Linked DNA regions of Homo sapiens. The protein of the gene in region 4 purifies or fractionates together with the protein of the main gene of each other region. This does not show direct contact. Each region holds a gene or a part of one and is shown on either strand. Other genes may lie near its edges.

Region 1 (3,520 bases), on a different chromosome or scaffold from region 4:
ATTCACTCTCTTCCTTTAAATCAAAAGTTCTCTCAAAGACCAGAAGTCCTGTTTTTCATCTAATTTTGGAAAGTTTCTCCTATGGCGCTCATTCTCTCTCCATTAAAAAAAATCTGTCATCCATTTCCTTTAGCAATGTGTTCTAATAATTAAAGCTGAGAAACTGTCATGCAGCAGAAGAAATAAAGGGAGGAGCCTATCTCCCCTCCCTACCAGCTTGAAACACCTGCAAGAAGCGAGTCAGAAACCAGTCTCCTCACTCCTTGTCCCTAAGGATGTCCCAGGCCTAAGGCCTCCCGCAGGGTCCAAAGGTAGAAAAACAGGAGGGTCACCATGGTGTCGGATAGTATGGCTGGAAGGAGCCACCAACCCAGCCTTCTAAGCCAGATAGGGTGAGTAATGTACATGTGTGTAGGTGTGGTGTGTGCCTGCGTTGGGGAGGGTGTACGCAAGTCTAAGCTACTGCTACACAGAGAACAAAACAGAGCAACAGCCACCTTCATAAACCCCGCCAGTGTTCCCTGTGTAGTTTATGACCACAGCAACCCCAAGCATCTAGACTCACAGGCTTTCAGTGGACTGCTCTCAAGAGCGCACTCAAGCTGGCAGCTTCATGGCTCAAGGGGTCAATAATGAACACACTCGCCAGATTCTCAATGAACTACTGACCTTAAGTGGAACAACAAATTCCCCTCTCTGCTACCTAAAACACAGTGTGTGGTCTAGGCAGACCCACTGTGACCCCTTCACACCCTGCCACTGGCCCTCTGGAAATGAAAGGCTTTGGGATCAACCCAGTCACCAGCAGAGATCCAAGGAGCCCAGGATACTGTCCCCACTGCAACACCAGCCTCGAAACTCAGGACTGGGAGGGGCAAAATACAGGTAGGGCGAACCATGGTCTCTCCCCTCATCCTCAGTGGCCTGAATGCCTGGGCTGGAAGCTGCTGGAAATTAACGGGCAGCTTGGGCTTGGGTCCAGTGAGGCAGCACTGTACTCACCACAGCCAAAAATAACATTCTGCCCAATTCTGCCCAATTCTGCCCAATTCTATCCCATTGTGAAAGCAGCAGACGGCAAGGACACACAGAGAGTAACCTCTATGACCAAGAGCTCCTGGGAGGTCTGGGTCTCATCTTTTCTGTCCCAGGTTTGAGGACACTGTGCAGAGCTCAAAATATCAGTCAAGCTGAGGTGAGGTCCCTATCCACTGCACTCTCTCTAGGCTCCACCACACCTGGGCAGAGGGGCAACTCCACTGTACCCAGAGGGAGTCAATAGGAGCCCCACCGGGCAGAGGAACAGGATACCAGTCCTAAATACTGTATCCCAGTATTATTGAGTCCCCAAAGGCTCTTAGTGTGACAGTCACCCCCAGTGTCTGGTAACTGATCTCAAGCCCTCTTCTGGCTGATCTCAGAGACAGGAAAGACAATTATTGGTCGTGACAAACAGCAGCACCCAACACGAAGCTGCAAAAACTGTCTCCAGAACTTCATAAAATTCACACATGTACTCCTTAGGACAAGGACCCTCCTGACCCCTGACCTCCTGTACCTGTCTTCAGGACCACCAGGTGTGCAGCGTCATCCCGAACATAGGAGACGGCGGCGATGTCATGGATGGGCACCCTGAGGATGATATCCTCCCCGTCCCTCCAGGCCAGCTTGACGTTGTACGCAGACAGGCTGAGCACAGCATCGTGCTCCTGAGTCAAGTGTCCCGGAAGCTGGTGGGCTCTCTGGAAGGAACCACAGGGCATCAGAAATACAGACTCAGCTGTCAACCGGCATGGGGCGCTTCTCCTGAGAATATTGTGCTGGCCGATGTCACACATGTGACAAATGCTGAGTGAATAAGGTCAGTGTTATTCCCCTCAGAACAGTGCTTATTCCAGGGACACCAATGTGTTCAAACCATTTGGGAGATTCTTCTGGAACTGCCTTCAGATTCAGACTTACGGCACATGGTTTGAAATATCTTGAAAGTGTAAATTTTGGAAACAGCCCAAAATCACATGGAGCAAGTGTCGAGAATCAACTTAATGTCCATACTAAGGAATAGTCTTTATGGCCAAGAGCCAAGTGTACCCATAATGTGATGGGACTGGCTCATTCCTCACAGCCACGAGGCCAAGAGTACAGGGACCAAGGGCTGGTGGGGGCTGAGGGCTAGTGCACAGGGTTAAGAGGATAGGGTTACCTTTGCATTGTCTATGAAATGCAGGATTTCAGTCCTACTGGAGGGATTCAGGTATCCTGGTATGGACGTTAACTGACCTAAATACTGAAAGAAAGTGAAGAAAAAAATGCCATGAGAAATGGGAGCTGAGCCAACACCACCATCACTACCACCGAGAGCACAAACCAAGTGCTTCATACTCAGGCCACCAGGCCCATGGGTCTCCATTCCGGCTCGCGTGGAGGCCCAACTCTAGGAAGAGAGTCCTGGGTTCTTACAGAAATCTCTACTGGCTGAGGACAGTGCTGCCCCATCTCCTACTATTCTACAGTGAAGGTCATCATCAAAAGTCCTGCAATGAGTATCCCAAACTACTAGTACCAAAACTACTAGTTTTGGTAGAATCTGTATTCTAAAACAGGGATGGTCAGGGTTTTCTCGTCACTGCTGGGGAAACTGAAAACAATGGCATCATGCACAACTTCACTAAAAAATAAACTTCCTCAATTGCAAAGGTCAACATAGCTGAGAAATGAGCATAAATAGAGAAATGAAGTGCTATGGTTTCAATGTGTCCCCCAAAAAGCATGTGCTGGAAACTTAGTCCCCACATGCAACAGTGTTAAGGGTGGGGCCTTTAAGAGGTGATTAGGCCAGGTGCGGTGGCTCACGCCTGTAATCCCAGCACTTTGGGAGGCTAAGGTGGGCAGATCACCTGAGGTTGGGAGTTCGAAACCAGCCTGACCAACATGGAGAAACCCCGTCTCTACTAAAAATACAAAATTAGCTGGACGTGGTGGTGCATGCCTGTAATCTCAGCTACTCAGGAGGCTGAGGCAGGATAATTGCTTGAACCCGGGAGGCGGAGGTTGTGGTGAGCCAAGACTGCGCCATTATACTCCAGCCTGGGCAACAAGAGCAAAACTCCATCTCAAAAAAAAAAAAGAAAGAAAAGAGCTGATTAGGCCACGAGAGCTCTGCCCTTGTGAGCACATTAATGCTGTTATCCTGGGAGAGGGTTTGTTATCTCAGGAGCAGGTTCCTGATGAAAGGATGAATTTGACCCCCTTCCCTCTCCTGCCCTTCCACCTTTCGCCCTGGGATAACATAAGATGCAGATGCAGCCCCTCACCAGCTGTGCCCTTCAACCTTAAACCTCCTAGCCTCCAGAACGATACGATTTTTTTTTTTTTTTTGAGACAGGGTCTCACTCTATCACACAGGCTGGGGTGCAGAGGCGTGATCTTGGCTCACTGCAACCTCTGCCTCCCAGGCTCAAAGCAATTGTCCCACCTTAGCCTCCTGAGTAGCTGGTACTACAGGTGTGTGTCACCACGC
Region 2 (3,520 bases), on a different chromosome or scaffold from region 4:
ATGCTCAGGCACAGTTACAGTGTTCTGGACTATTCATTATAAGCCATAATATCCTATGTTTTAGGTAGAGCTTCACTTATTTATATGTAGCAATGCCATTTTTAATTTAGGGTGAAGGAGAGAGGTGATTCATCTAGCCTCAGAGTCCACTCTGCCCTCTAGATTCAAAAACCACAGAACATCTTCTGAAAGAAACTAGGCAATTCTCTGATTAAAAACTTAAAAATTACAATGAATACAAAAAGGGACTGGCTTACAGAGTGGCAAACACGAAAATGTCATCTCTCTCAATGGTCAGTCTTTGTGTATTGTTCTCTAGGGAGAGAGCTTGTAAACAACACTCAGATGAAGGGAAGGAATGCCAAATTAGCATGAAAGGCTTCAATACTCTAATCTTTACATAGAAAGTCACAGGGCCGGGTGTGGTGGCTCACACCTGTAATCCCAGCACTTTGGGAGGCCGAGGCGGGTGGATCACGAGGTCAGGCATTCGAGACCAGCCTCGCCAACATAGTGAAACCCTGTCTCTAATAAAAAATATAAAAAATTAGCTGGGCGTGGTGGTGGGCGCCTGTAATCCCAGCTACTTGGGAGGCTGAGGCAGGAGAATCACTTGAACCTGGGAGGCAGAGGTTGCGGTGAACCGAGGTCGCGCCATCGCACTCCAGCCCGGGCAACAGTGCAAGACTCCATCTCAAAAAATTAAAAAAAAAAAAAAAAAGAAAGCCATAAAAGAAAAGCTTTATTTTTTTTTCAAAAATTAAATACAAGCCATTCAAATTGAAAAACTACAAAAAGTGTCAATGTTGACGTAAGTAAGGTTCTCAAACCCAAGAGCTCAAGCATTAGAAGCCAGAAATTTAAAACTTGGCCTGTTTTCTACATTTTCATTTATTTTTAAGCTTTAAGAAATGCACCGTGCATAGCTTTGCACAAAGGGGATATGATTTTACTTACAGTACAATTAAACCAGAGAACCATAAGTCCTTGACTGTCGAAAGTAAGTACCATGAGGGAGAATATCTGTGGTTATAATTAAATAAATACCAGGTCTTCTAAGGCGGTACTGTGATAGTCCTAGCAGCACCCAGATGGCCGGAACACACGGAAAGGGGAACAGCAATGACATATAAGGCGTATACACACGAATAAAGAAAAAGGTGCTCAGGAACCTGAGGTTAAATGAACAGAGCTAAGTGATTCTGGTATTAACTTCACTTGTCTCCTCTTACATTTGATCCTGCCTTTGTTTCCCAGTATTTTCTTTTGGTCTCATCATGAGTATCCTGCTAATGCATGAAGACTGTACACTTGGACTCTGGACAATGGGGCAGACTCTTCTACACTTGCACTCTGGACAGTAAGTATGAGGCAGAGAATCACTGCCGAGGAGATGGCTTGTAATGGCCCCCACTGCCACATTAATAAGAACGTGGAAGGACAGAATAGAAACTCCTTTCCCAACAGTATCACTCACATGGAGAAAAATCCTGTTATAGCTAACACCCAGGAAACAAAATATGGGTCTCAGTACTGTCCTGATTACTAAAAAGGGGAAAATAATCATTTCTCTTTAGTGAAAACATTTTGAAGATTGTAACTACGGTAGATTATCAACTACACAACTTGAAAAATCGATCTCCAACCAGAAAACAAACTCGGCCTCTACTGCTAACACCTTCAAGTTTACCACTGAGCAGCGTTTACCATGTGTGGACACAAACCTGTACACGGTGGTAGTTGCAGTGTTAACTTTCTCATTCAGAATGCGGCATTTAAATTTATTGTACTACGAAGAAAAACATATTTACACATTATTACACACAATGTTGAAATGAAGAAAACAACTCTACTTTTCTTCAAGAAACATTGAAAGGTCATCTACTGATGTTCTAGGTGCTGAGACACGAGGGATACAAAGAGCTCACAGCCTTGAGCGACACCGTGCAGCATGGAGGCCACAAGCCACGTGGCTACTGGGCATTTCAAATGCCATTAATTTGTGGTTGTTGTTGTTGTTTTTGAGACAGAGTCTCACTCCCTCACCCAGGCTAGGGTGCAGTGCCACCATCTTGGCTCACTGCAACGTCCGTCTCCCTGGTTCAAGCGATTCTGCCTCAGCCTCCCGTGTAGCTGGAATTACAGGCATGTACCACCATGCCTGTATTGTATTTTTGTATTTTTACTATGTGCTAATTTTTGTATTTTTAGTAGAGACAGGGTTTCACTATGTTGGCCAGGCTGGTCTCAAACTCCTGACCTCTAGTGATCCGCCTGCCTTGGCCTCCCAAAGTACTGGGATTACAGGTGTGAGCCACCACACCTGGCCTCAAATGCCACTAATTTGAAAGAAGATGTGCAGTGAGTATAAAACACACTGGACTTTGGAAGTATAATGTTGCAAAAAGAAGAAGAAAATCATTCGTTAATCATTCTTTATACTGGCTACCATTGAAATTATACTTTTTATATATTGGGTTAAAAATTTGTTAAAATTAATTGCAACTTTTACTTTTAAAATGTAGCTGCCATAAAATTATAGGTTACACATGTAGCTCAGACTAGTGGATTCCATTATGTTTCTATTGGACAGTACTGTTCTAGAAGATCTAATTTTAACATTAATCAATAAAATTCTGACAAGGACACAGCTATATTATTAATTTGTATAAAAACAAAAGCAAAGTTTATCGTAATGATGATATATTTATAAAACTAAGGGTTTTTTTCCTTTTCCTTTCTTTTCTGCTTCCATCACTACTATCGGGGTATACAAGGCACTTTATATTAAATAACTACTTAAAGAAGCTAGTTGTTGGGAGAAAAACCCGTATCTGCATGATTTAACTGTTTCGTATCTATATATTCACAACAAATCATTTTCCTTAACAAAGATTAATTGTGTTTAGTTCTTAAAAGTAGCTGCAAAAAAGGCAACCCACAGAATTAAATATTTGCAAATCACATATCTGTTAAGAAATGGATATCCAGAATATATCAAGAACTCTTATAACTCAAATACAAAAAAACCTAATTAAAAAATGGGCAAAAGAGCTCAACAGACATTTCTCCAAAGACATTTCTTCAAGAAAATACACAAATGGCCAATAAGCACATTAAGATGCTCACCATTAGTACGTCATCAGAGAAATGCAAGTCAAAACAAAACCCCAATGAGATACCACTTCACAACCATTAGGATGTCCATGATTAAAAAAAAAACAAAACAAGTGTTGGCAAGGATGTGGAAAAACTGAACCCCCTGTGCATCACTGGTGGGACTGTAAAATGGTGTAGCCACTGCACCAAACGGTATGGCGAGTTCTCGAAAACTTAAAAACAGAATTGCCATAGGATCCAGAAATTCCCCTTCTAAGTATATTCCCAAAAGAAGTAAAGCAGAGACTCAAACAGAACTTTACACACCCATGTTCACAGCAGCGCTGTTCACAATAGTAGCCAAAAGGCAGAAGCAACCCAAGTGTTTACAGGTGGATGAATGGATCAACAAAATGTGGTC
Region 3 (3,377 bases), about 23 Mb from region 4:
AACAGAGCCCTCAGAAATAATGCCGCATATCTACAACTATCTGATCTTTGACAAACCTGAGAAAAACAAGCAATGGGGAAAGGATTCCCTATTTAATAAATGGTGCTGGGAAAACTGGCTAGCCATATGTAGAAAGCTGAAACTGGATCCCTTCCTTACACCTTATACAAAAATTAATTCAAGATGGATTAAAGACTTAAACGTTAGACCTAAAACCCTAAAAACCCTAGAAGAAAACCTAGACATTACCATTCAGGACATAGGCATGGGCAAGGACTTCATGTCTAAAACACCAAAAGCAATGGCCACAAAAGCCAAAATTGACAAATGGGATCTAATTAAACTAAAGAGCTTCTGCACAGCAAAAGAAACTACCATCAGAGTGAACAGGCAACCTATAAAATGGGAGAAAATTTTCGCAACCTACTCATCTGACAAAGGGCTAATATCCAGAATCTACAATGAACTCAGACAGAGCGAGATTCTATCTCAAAAAACAAACAAACAAACAAAAAACAGTAAAAAAAAATTTTTAGTAAGTTCCAATTGTGTGTCAGAATTGTGCTAGGCGCAGGGGGCAACAATAAGCAAGACAGATCAAGCCTATACCGTCTTGAAATTTAAGTTTAGGGACCACTCTCTGTCAAAGGATCCAGCGCTGGTAATATAGATTGCTGAAGGCCTTTGCCTTCTTTCCACCAGGCAACAGAATTTGTGTCCCCGTCACTGCTTCTTCTTCTGTGAAAAATATAGCTTCAGTTTGGTCCACGAATACAGAAGTTGGTCAGAGATATTTTCTTTCAAGCACACAACAAGCAAAACTTGGCCAATACACACCAATCAAATGCACTTCGTTTTTCCCTGGGAGCTCCTGCCACATCTCAGCCCTGCAGGGCAGTCTTCATAAGGGAGACAAAAGAAGGGCTATGCACTGGCACTGACAGTTGGGCAGGCAGTGCTCAAATAAGCCTAAATCTCAACATTCCAAGGGAATCTTCAAGATCAAGGTAGACCTGGTCCAGTCATCTCTTAATCTTTTAAGGATCACTGGCTGGATGTGGTGGCTCACGCCTGTAATCCCAGTGCTTTGGGAGGCCGAGGCAGGCAAATCATGAGGTCAGGAGTTTGAGACCACACTGGCCAACATGGTGAAACCCTGTCTCTACTAAAAATACAACAAATTAGCTGGGCATGGTGGTGCATGCCTGTAATCCCAGCCACTCAGGAGGCTGAGGCAGGAGAATCGCTTGAACCCAGGAGGCGGAGCTTGCAGTGAGCCGAGATTGTGCCATTGCACTCCAGCCTGGGCAACAGAGCAAGACTCCATCTCAAAAACAAAAAACAAAAAGGGATCACAGATCTCTTTGAAAATCAGTGGCCCCTTTAGACTTTCTGTGCCAAAAAAGTTATGCTTTCACCTCAGCACCCAGTTTTCCCTAGTTTATCTGAAGTTTCATGGACATATGATGTGCCCGAATTTCCTGGAGCTCCAGAGACCCCACGTCAAGAATTCCTAGTGTATATAAAAGCCCGTTTGAGCTCTAACATCCATGATTAACAGTCTCTGGGTTGGGTAACTCTGTTGGCTTAAATACAGAGGCAATGACATGCCTGTTTAAGTTCAGTGCAGGTCCCAGTTCAATTCCCATGTGAGTCATTATCTTCTGAAAATGGGAAAACTCTGCTCCATAGCAGTGGACAGAACCTCCAAAACCAGTCAGGTGACACAGCTCATAGTTTCTGAAAAAGACAAAACACCAAGCTCAAAAATAAGGTGGTTGGATCTATGGCATTGCAAAGCGACAACCCAAAGGTTGTGAGGGTTGCTGCCTGCTGCTGACATAGCAATAATACTCATTGGGCTCCTCCACTTCATATACGTTCTCTTCAATGGTATAGATGTTTTCTTCTGAGCGAATTCCCTCTGCTACTGCATTTGCCAATCCTGAGGGAGGGAGGTTGGCCAAAGAGATGAGGCTGTGGAAATAAAGTGTTGCGGTTGAGTTAAGCATTTCCCAGGTAACACGGAATAGAGTTAAGAGAATAGGCTTTCCCAAAGAGACAGCAACTAAATATAGTGCATGATCTTTGATCAGATGCTGAACAAGTGGAAAAGCCAAGAAATAGCAATAAAATACTATGGGGAAACAATTGAGAAAATGTCCATTAATTTTAATTTTCTTAGGTATAACAACAGCATTGTGATAGCTAAGAGAATATTTTTATTTCTCGGAGGTGCAGGCTGAAGTTTAGGTGAAGTATCAAGATGTCTGCAATTATGTACACATTTAGATTTTCAAAAAATGGGCCGGGCGCCGTGGCTCACGCCTGTAATCCCAGCACTTTGGGAGGCTGAGCCTGGCAGATCACGAGGTCAGGAGTTCGAGACCAGCCTGGCCAACATAGTGAAACCCCGTCTCTACTAAACATACAAAAAATTAGCCAGCGTGGTGGCATGCACCTGTAATCCCAGCTACTTGGGAGGCTAATGCAGAGAATCGCTTGAACCCGAGAAGCAGAGGTTATAGTGAGCCGAGGTTGTGCCACTGCACTCCAGCCTGGGTGACAGAGCCAGACTCCGTCTCAAAAAAAAAAAAAAAAAATTATTAATGCTTTAGATAGCATTCAATGGACAGAGGTTTTTGTTTTGTTTTGTTTGATGCTGGGTCTTTCTCTGTCACCCAGGTGGGAATGCAGTGGCACAATCATGGCTCATTGCAGCCTTCATCTCCTGTGCTCCAGCAATCCTTCCACCTAATGTTTCCATTTTTTTGTAGAGAAGAGGTCTCATCATGTTGCCCAGGCTGGTCTTGAACTCCTGGGCTCATGTGATCCTCCCACCTCAGCCTCCCAAAGTGCTGGGCTTATAGGCGTAAGCCACAGCACCTAGCCCAGAATCATTTTTGTAATCCAAATATATTGTATTCCATTCATGTGCCAAACATCACTAAAAGTCTAAAATCTAGTAAGTTATGTAAGCCATACCTATTTGAAATGGATGTGTGGGTGTGTATAATCAGGAACGAAGGTCAAGACAGGAGTCTATAACAGACTAGCAGTTCTCAGCCCTGACTGTTCACTAGAATCACCTGGAGAGCTTTTAGAACAATTTCTATGCTTAGGCTTCATCCCCAGAGATTCTGATTCAGTTGCTCTGGGGTTGGCCCTGCATTAGTACACTTCAGTGCCTGGGTGATTCTAATAGGAAACTAAAGTTGAAAATGCCTGGGCTGTTTACAGAAATGCTGAGAACAGATACTGGGTTTCTTGCTCACTTCTGTAACGCCTAAGTGCAGCCCAGACCCTGGATATAATAGGAGCTCAATCCGTTGATGTTTCAGTTCAGTGGAAAAACCATTAATATCGAGATGAATAAG
Region 4 (3,520 bases):
GCTCTGATCCCCATGTGTAAACAATGATTCCCTTCTCCTCTGGCGACTTCAGGACACAGAGAAACAGTATCTGCTGTAAGCAAAAGCACTTGGGTAGAAGGCACGTGGAAGCTGTCAAGCTCTACAGGAGCACGCAGAACATGTGGGATGTCCACTTCTCTTCCCATGTAGCATCCCTGCTGTTGGGACAGGTCTGGAATCAGATGAAAGGTGGTGATGGTCTTGTCACGGTCTCAGCCTCATTCCACAGTTACAGACTTGGCCAGATTTCTGGGGAAGTCAACCTAAAATGAAAGAAAGTGACTGTTCAGGACCCCAAAGATCTCAGCAACATGCTACCTCTCACAGACAATTTTCAGAGTACTTAAAAACAAGAGACAGATGTTCACCATGGTCACCAACCTAGAGACCTGCGTCTTGGAGGCAGATTCCTTAGTCCAGAAGCCTCATTTAACCGTATAAGGTTTAGTCCCTCAATAAACATTTACTGTGCACCTGATGTGTGTCATGATCTGTTAACATGATTTAAAGAATAAGGTTCATGCTTTTAAACACAGGTAACTTGGTGTGTACTGTTAAAAATTAACTTTTCTTGCAAGAATATATATGAATTCCATGGGACTTATTTGTTTAGGGTGGAGTGGGAAGGAAAGGTAGGAATGGTTCATAAGTACGCTTCTACTGGGCCGGGTGCGGTGGCTCACACCTGTAATCCCAGCACTTTGGGAGGCTGAGGCAGGTGGATCACGAGGTCAGATCAAGGTCATCCTGGCTAACACGGTGAAACCCCGTCTCTACAAAAAATACAAAAAATTAGCCAGGCATGGTGGCGGGTGCTTGTAGTCCCAGCTACTCGGGAGGCTGAGGCAGGAGAATCGCTTGAACCCAGGAGGTGGAGCTTGCAGTGAGCCGAGGTTGTGCCACTGCCCTCCAGCCTGGGCGACAGAGCGAGACTCAATCTCAAAAAAAAAAAAAAGAAAGCTACTTTAAATAAAATTATTTACTCTATGACTATTTACTCCAAGTATTTAAAGAACAGAAAGGAACTCTGGGGTTATGTCTCTCCTCTCTGCTGTTAGGTGCAGTTTTTAGACGCACGTCATATCCTCGGAGAACAGCCAGGTGGAAGGACAGCAGCTGCAGCGGAATCACGCTCAGGATGCCCTGGAGGCAGTCCACAGTGTGGGGCAGCTCAATTGTCTTATACGCAAACTTGGAACTTTCAGTATCGTCCTTGGAGCACAGTATAATGGGGCGACCCTAGAGCAGAGAAATAGCATCATAAAATAGACCCTCTCTGAAAGAAGCTATCCCTGATGCATACAGAGTATCTGGAAGCTACATTACTGTGATGAGAACAGTCCTCTTTTGCATTTGCTGGAGTCATGGGTGAGGTGGTATGTGTGGGACACAAATGCTTGGAAAGGATAAAGTGTCTGATGCTTTTTGGGGGTTTCTTCCCCTTCCCTGGTAAGGAGATTGCCATCCTGCTGCATCATTTGGCACCCATTTGTGCCTTGCCGAGAGCGGGGCAGACTCACTCCTAACTCTAGCGGGGCTCATAGTCTAGTGGTAGAAAACAAAAACCTAGACAAGCAAACCAAGAAATAAAGATGAATTCCAGGCCGGGCGTGGTGGCTCACGCCTGTAATCCCAACACTTTGGGAGGCTGAGGCGGGTGGATCACGAGGTCAGGAGATCGAGACCATCCTGGCTAACATGGTGAAACCCTGTCTCTACTAAAAAATACAAAAAATTAGCCGGGTGTGGTGGCGGGGGCCTGTAGTCCCAGCTACTGGGGAGGCTGAGGCAGGAGAATGGCGTGAACCTGGGAGGCGGAGCTTGCAGTGAGCCGAGATGGCGCCACTGCACTCCAGCCTGGGCGACAGAGCCAGACTCCGTCACAAAAAAAAAAAAAAAATGAATTCCAAAGAAATGCCACCAAGGCTAGAAAACAGGATAATGTCATTGGGAGACTGGTGAGGTCTCCAAAGCTCTCTCAAAAACAGGAGACATCTGGACTGAACCCTAAATGATGAGGGGACAACCCTCGGCGGAGCATTCTGTGGGAAGGGCATTCCAGACAGCAGGAGCGGCCAGCGCAAAGGCCCGGAGGCGGGCGCGGGCGCAATGAGAGTGGGACGCAGAAGGAAAGCTGGAGTGCCTGGAACTCACTGAAACAGGAGGAAAGGGCCAGATAACGCAGGACTGTGGGTCTCTGTGGCTTGACAGGCAGGTATGGGAGGGTTTTAAGTGGGGAAATGATGCCATTGTGTTTTATACCCTCACTCTGACCTCTGTGCTGAGCCAGGTGGCAACATCTGGATGGGGCACCTCATTGGATTTCACCTCCCCGAAACTTCATGAACTCTGCCCTCCTACCTCAGGGCAGCTGCTGTGTACAAAGCATTTGGTTGGTCTTTGTGGCCGGTTCCAGGAAGGGAGCTCCTGGCTTCTGGACTTTCCCATGTGACAAAAGCATCTTTGTTATTTATGGGAGGTCCCTTGGACTATACCTAACTTTATGCTAAGGTGACGACTCGTGGTGGGCCTGTAGATAGTTCCAGGATGGCGTCTGGCCCTGCTAGAAAGGCCAGCCACATGATTAGAAGGTTGGGGCTTTGAGACATGAGCCTGTCAGTCTGACCTCCCAACCTCCAAGGACAAAAGTGGGGCTGGCGACTGAGTTTGATCACATGGCCAATGGTTCACTCCATCCTGCCTACTTAATAAAACCACAATACAAACTCTGGACACTGGAGCTAGCAGCTCAGGGGAGCTCCCGGGCGACACACAGTGACGTGCTGGGAGGGTGACACATCCTGAGGACACAAGCTTCACATCTGGGGCCCTCAAACTAGGGGTCTCTTCTTTTGGGTTGGCTGTGATTTATATCTTTTATAATAAAACTGTAATCATATAGTCATCTCCTGAGTTCTATGGGTCGTTCTAGAAAATTACTGAACTTCAGGGGAGAGTGGGAATCCTTGGATTCATAGTCAGTTGCTCAGATGTGTGGGTGGACCCCTGGCTTGCAACAGGTGCCTGAATCGAGGGCAGTCTTATGGAAAGCTGTGCCCCTGCCCTATGAGACCTGACCTAACTCCAGGTAGTTCCCATCGGAGCTGCTTGGCCGCAGAACCTGGGGAAACCCTGCCCCAGGGATGTCCACCAGGAGTACCTCCCCTGAGCTCCAGGCTAGGATCTGGTGCTGCTCACAGCAGTGTGGGTCCCTGGGCCCCACCAAAGAGCTGTGTGGGACAGCTGCGGGCTGACCAGCTCCTTTCCAAGTGTGTGCACTCCCCACAGGCGGCCCGGGGGAGGGTGTGTGGTCACAGCCACTCACTGGCCAGACCATCCATCACTGGTACTGGCAGACAGTGGTGAGGTGGGCATGCATGGGGAAAAGCAGGAGAGAGCTGGCCCAGTCCAGTGGAGAGCCCTCACCTGGCGGGCCGTGACTTGCTGCAGGGCGTTCTGGCATTTGGCGAAGCAAGGATCCTTCATAATGACCATGATG
Region 5 (2,957 bases), on a different chromosome or scaffold from region 4:
TAAAAAGGCAGTTAATGGGACTGATAACCCAAGCTTTTTTTACTTTTAAATAAAATTAACGGCTGACTGTCAAAGGTCAAAGGCATCTATTTTTTAGATGGAGCACTCCCTTATAATGCTGGAGTTGAAATTCTTCCTTGAACTCTAAGGCTGATTATGGTTATTAGTGGTCAGGCTATCCTGGGTAAGTAATTACGGTCCTCTGCCCTCCAGGGCGAGGATGGGCAGATTCCTACGCAGTTCCATGGGCTGGGGGCTGGCAGGAAGTGAAGGCTATCAGCTCTCTGAAGCCTTAGGCATGTAATAGGGAACAGAACACAAATATCTTTTCTTCTGAGATTGCGGCCTACAGAATAAGCAGGACTCAATCAACATTAGATGAGTTTGTAGCTACTGAGCACATTATCCCCAATACAAATACCTCATTTGGAATTTCCATTCATTTTCATTCAATGAAGGGAAATGACTGTCCATTATTTTGGAAGAAAACATTTATAATGACTAGTCCTCAAGAATAACTTGTTTTATTACCATGATTTGTGAAAAGCAACAGGGTAGACAGTTCAAGGAAGGACACAGACAGTGCCCTGTTTTAGGTTCCAAATTTCTTCTTTTTAATGGGTGGTGGGAGCTGAGCAATGATGTCATCCAGAGGCCGTTCTACTGCCACGAGTGTTCTTTCATCCAAAAGATCCATGAAGAGTAGAGGCTGCAGAGGGATGATAATTATTCTATCAGGACTTAGGATCCAGGGCTAGTCCTGAAAGAACTGACTGTAGGTAGACACCATCTAAGCTAAAAGGTTAGCCTAGTTCAAGGCTCAAATGATTTAAATTTCTTGACAATCTTTCCTGCCCTGGGACTCAAAATAGTTGGAATGCATAAAAGCTTTTTTTTTTATTTTTTAGAGATCTTGCTATGTTGCCTAGGCAGGAGAGCAGTGGTCATTCATAGACATGATCAACGTGCACTGAAGCCCTGAACTCCTGGGCAATCATCCTGCCTCAGTCTCCTGAGTAGCTGGGACAATAGGTAGGTGTGCACGGCTGCGCCTGGCTCAAGATTGGGAGCCTTTTTTTTTTTTTTTTTTTTTTTTGAGACAGTCTCGCTCTGCCGCCCAGGCTGGAGTGCAGTGGCGCAATCTCGGCTCACGGCAAGCTCCGCCTCCCGGGTTCACGCCATTCTCCCGCCTCAGCCTCCCGGGTAGCTGGGACTACAGGTGCCCACCACCACGCCCGGCTAATTTTTTGTATTTTTAGTAGAGATGGGGTTTCACCGTGTTAGCCAGGATGGTCTCGATCTCCTGAACTCGTGATCCGCCCACCTTGGCCTCCCAAAGTGCTGGGATTACAGGCGTGAGCCACTGCGCCCGGCCAAGATTGGGAGCTTTTAACTAAGTTCACTCATAAAAGGTCTCAGCAGGATTTTTTTACATTTCTCTGGATAGAAAATCTATGCTTCTTATATCTCAAGAATCAATGTTAAGCAAGGACTTTAAAGCCTAAGTTCTTTTTTTTCTCAGACAGAATCTCGATGTTACCCAGCCTGGAGTGCAGTGGTGCAATCATACTCACCGCAGCCTTGAACTCCTGAGCACAAGCTATCCTCCCATCTCAGCCTCTTGAGCAGCTGGGACTACAGGCATGCTCCACCACACCTAGCTAATTTTTATATTTTTTTTTTTTTTGTAGAGACAGGGTCTCACTATGTTGCCCAGACTGGTCTTGAACTCCAGCCTCAACCTCCTAAAGTACTGAGATTACAGGCGTGAATCACCATACCCAGCCTAAGGCAACTGACAACTGGCAAGCTACAAATGCATCAAGAAGCTAATCACATTTGAGTCATTTGAGTAATCAGTAATTTACAGAACTCTCCTTTTTTTTTTTTTGTTAATAGTGATGGGGTTTCACCATGGTGCCCAGGCTGGTTTTGAATTCCTGGGCTGAGGAGATCCACCTGCCTTGGCCTCCCAAAGTGCTGGGATTACAGGTATGAGCTACCAAGCCCAGCCTGCTTGACATTTATCCTATGGAACACTCCAACAAGTAAAATTTAAAGCCAGCTCTCATGACAACAAAGACTCTACCCTCAGCGCCAACATTTCTCACTACTTACGCATTTCATTTTGGTTAAGTATGATGTGCCTGCCTCTAACCTACTAAGGCAAGAACAATAAAACATATACAAGGGACAGCCAGCCTCAAAAAGGTGACTTGTCTCCCACAAGCCAGGTTCTCTGCATGGAAACTGAAGGTGCTCTTATCTTCCGATTGTGGAGTTTATTACATTTTGGTATCACAAAGGAACCAACTATCCAGAATAACAACACAAGATGTTTTACCTTATATATCTTAGAAATTTTAAAAGCATGAGCTGTGCGCCTCCGGATGACATCTGATTCATTCGTGGGAGGAAATGGATTGTAGAGTAAGGTTTTGTCATTTGGAAGGGGCTAAAAAAACAAAGACACATTGTTTAAATGGTTACTTTTATTGGGCTTCTGCAGACCAAAGATCTGTAGTGCATTTTGAGCCCAACATCATCTTCTAACCATCATATATATTCAGTACCTCCCTGACATTCGTTAATTCGGGAAAACAGCTGTAGCCATAATACCTCTATTCAGAAAAACTAGGGGGGAAAAAAAGAAGAAAAGGAGAGAGAGGGAGAAAGAGCTGAAGCTACTCTTGCAGCCACACTGTAGAGGGTGGGTGTATGAGGCAAAGAGAGCTTGTTAACTCCATGCAGCAAGATCAAAGGGCCCTTCTGCGGCTTCTGGCCTGTCTCATCAGTATCACTTTGTCAGAATGGAACAAACTGGCAAGTGCAGGAGCTCAGCCCACACAGGGTCTGTGCTTTCTAGACTCTCCCCCAACCAGATCACAGACTGGACAAGTGACTGGAGTTCTCCCCAGGCGAAACCTCAACACAAACCACCTGTGCTGATGTCACTG

The links.
Region 1: the proteins of GFPT2 (region 4) and CCM2 purify together in Homo sapiens (co-immunoprecipitation; one large-scale study listed by IntAct). This does not show direct contact.
Region 2: the proteins of GFPT2 (region 4) and TARS3 fractionate together in Homo sapiens (co-fractionation; one large-scale study listed by BioGRID). This does not show direct contact.
Region 3: the proteins of GFPT2 (region 4) and HAVCR2 purify together in Homo sapiens (co-immunoprecipitation; one large-scale study listed by IntAct). This does not show direct contact.
Region 5: the proteins of GFPT2 (region 4) and UTP4 purify together in Homo sapiens (co-immunoprecipitation; one large-scale study listed by IntAct). This does not show direct contact.

Annotation. Positions count from the first base shown.
Region 1 is NC_000007.14:45,062,685-45,066,204, reverse strand, and holds part of CCM2 (cerebral cavernous malformations 2 protein), read right to left. Parts: intron 2,288-3,520; coding exon 2,204-2,287; intron 1,743-2,203; coding exon 1,559-1,742; intron 1-1,558. UniProt on the Homo sapiens protein: Component of the CCM signaling pathway which is a crucial regulator of heart and vessel formation and integrity. May act through the stabilization of endothelial cell junctions. May function as a scaffold protein for MAP2K3-MAP3K3 signaling.
Region 2 is NC_000015.10:101,703,959-101,707,478, forward strand, and holds part of TARS3 (threonine--tRNA ligase 2, cytoplasmic), read right to left. Parts: intron 1,790-3,520; coding exon 1,725-1,789; intron 1-1,724. UniProt on the Homo sapiens protein: Catalyzes the attachment of threonine to tRNA(Thr) in a two-step reaction: threonine is first activated by ATP to form Thr-AMP and then transferred to the acceptor end of tRNA(Thr).
Region 3 is NC_000005.10:157,085,318-157,088,694, forward strand, and holds the end of HAVCR2 (hepatitis A virus cellular receptor 2 precursor), read right to left. Parts: intron 1,978-3,377; coding exon 1,785-1,977; 3' UTR 515-1,784; downstream 1-514. UniProt on the Homo sapiens protein: Cell surface receptor implicated in modulating innate and adaptive immune responses. Generally accepted to have an inhibiting function.
Region 4 is NC_000005.10:180,301,325-180,304,844, forward strand, and holds part of GFPT2 (glutamine--fructose-6-phosphate aminotransferase [isomerizing] 2), read right to left. Parts: coding exon 3,448-3,520; intron 1,261-3,447; coding exon 1,099-1,260; intron 285-1,098; coding exon 240-284; 3' UTR 1-239. UniProt on the Homo sapiens protein: Controls the flux of glucose into the hexosamine pathway. Most likely involved in regulating the availability of precursors for N- and O-linked glycosylation of proteins.
Region 5 is NC_000016.10:69,166,573-69,169,529, reverse strand, and holds the end of UTP4 (U3 small nucleolar RNA-associated protein 4 homolog), read right to left. Parts: intron 2,456-2,957; coding exon 2,345-2,455; intron 710-2,344; coding exon 593-709; 3' UTR 509-592; downstream 1-508. UniProt on the Homo sapiens protein: Ribosome biogenesis factor. Involved in nucleolar processing of pre-18S ribosomal RNA. Part of the small subunit (SSU) processome, first precursor of the small eukaryotic ribosomal subunit.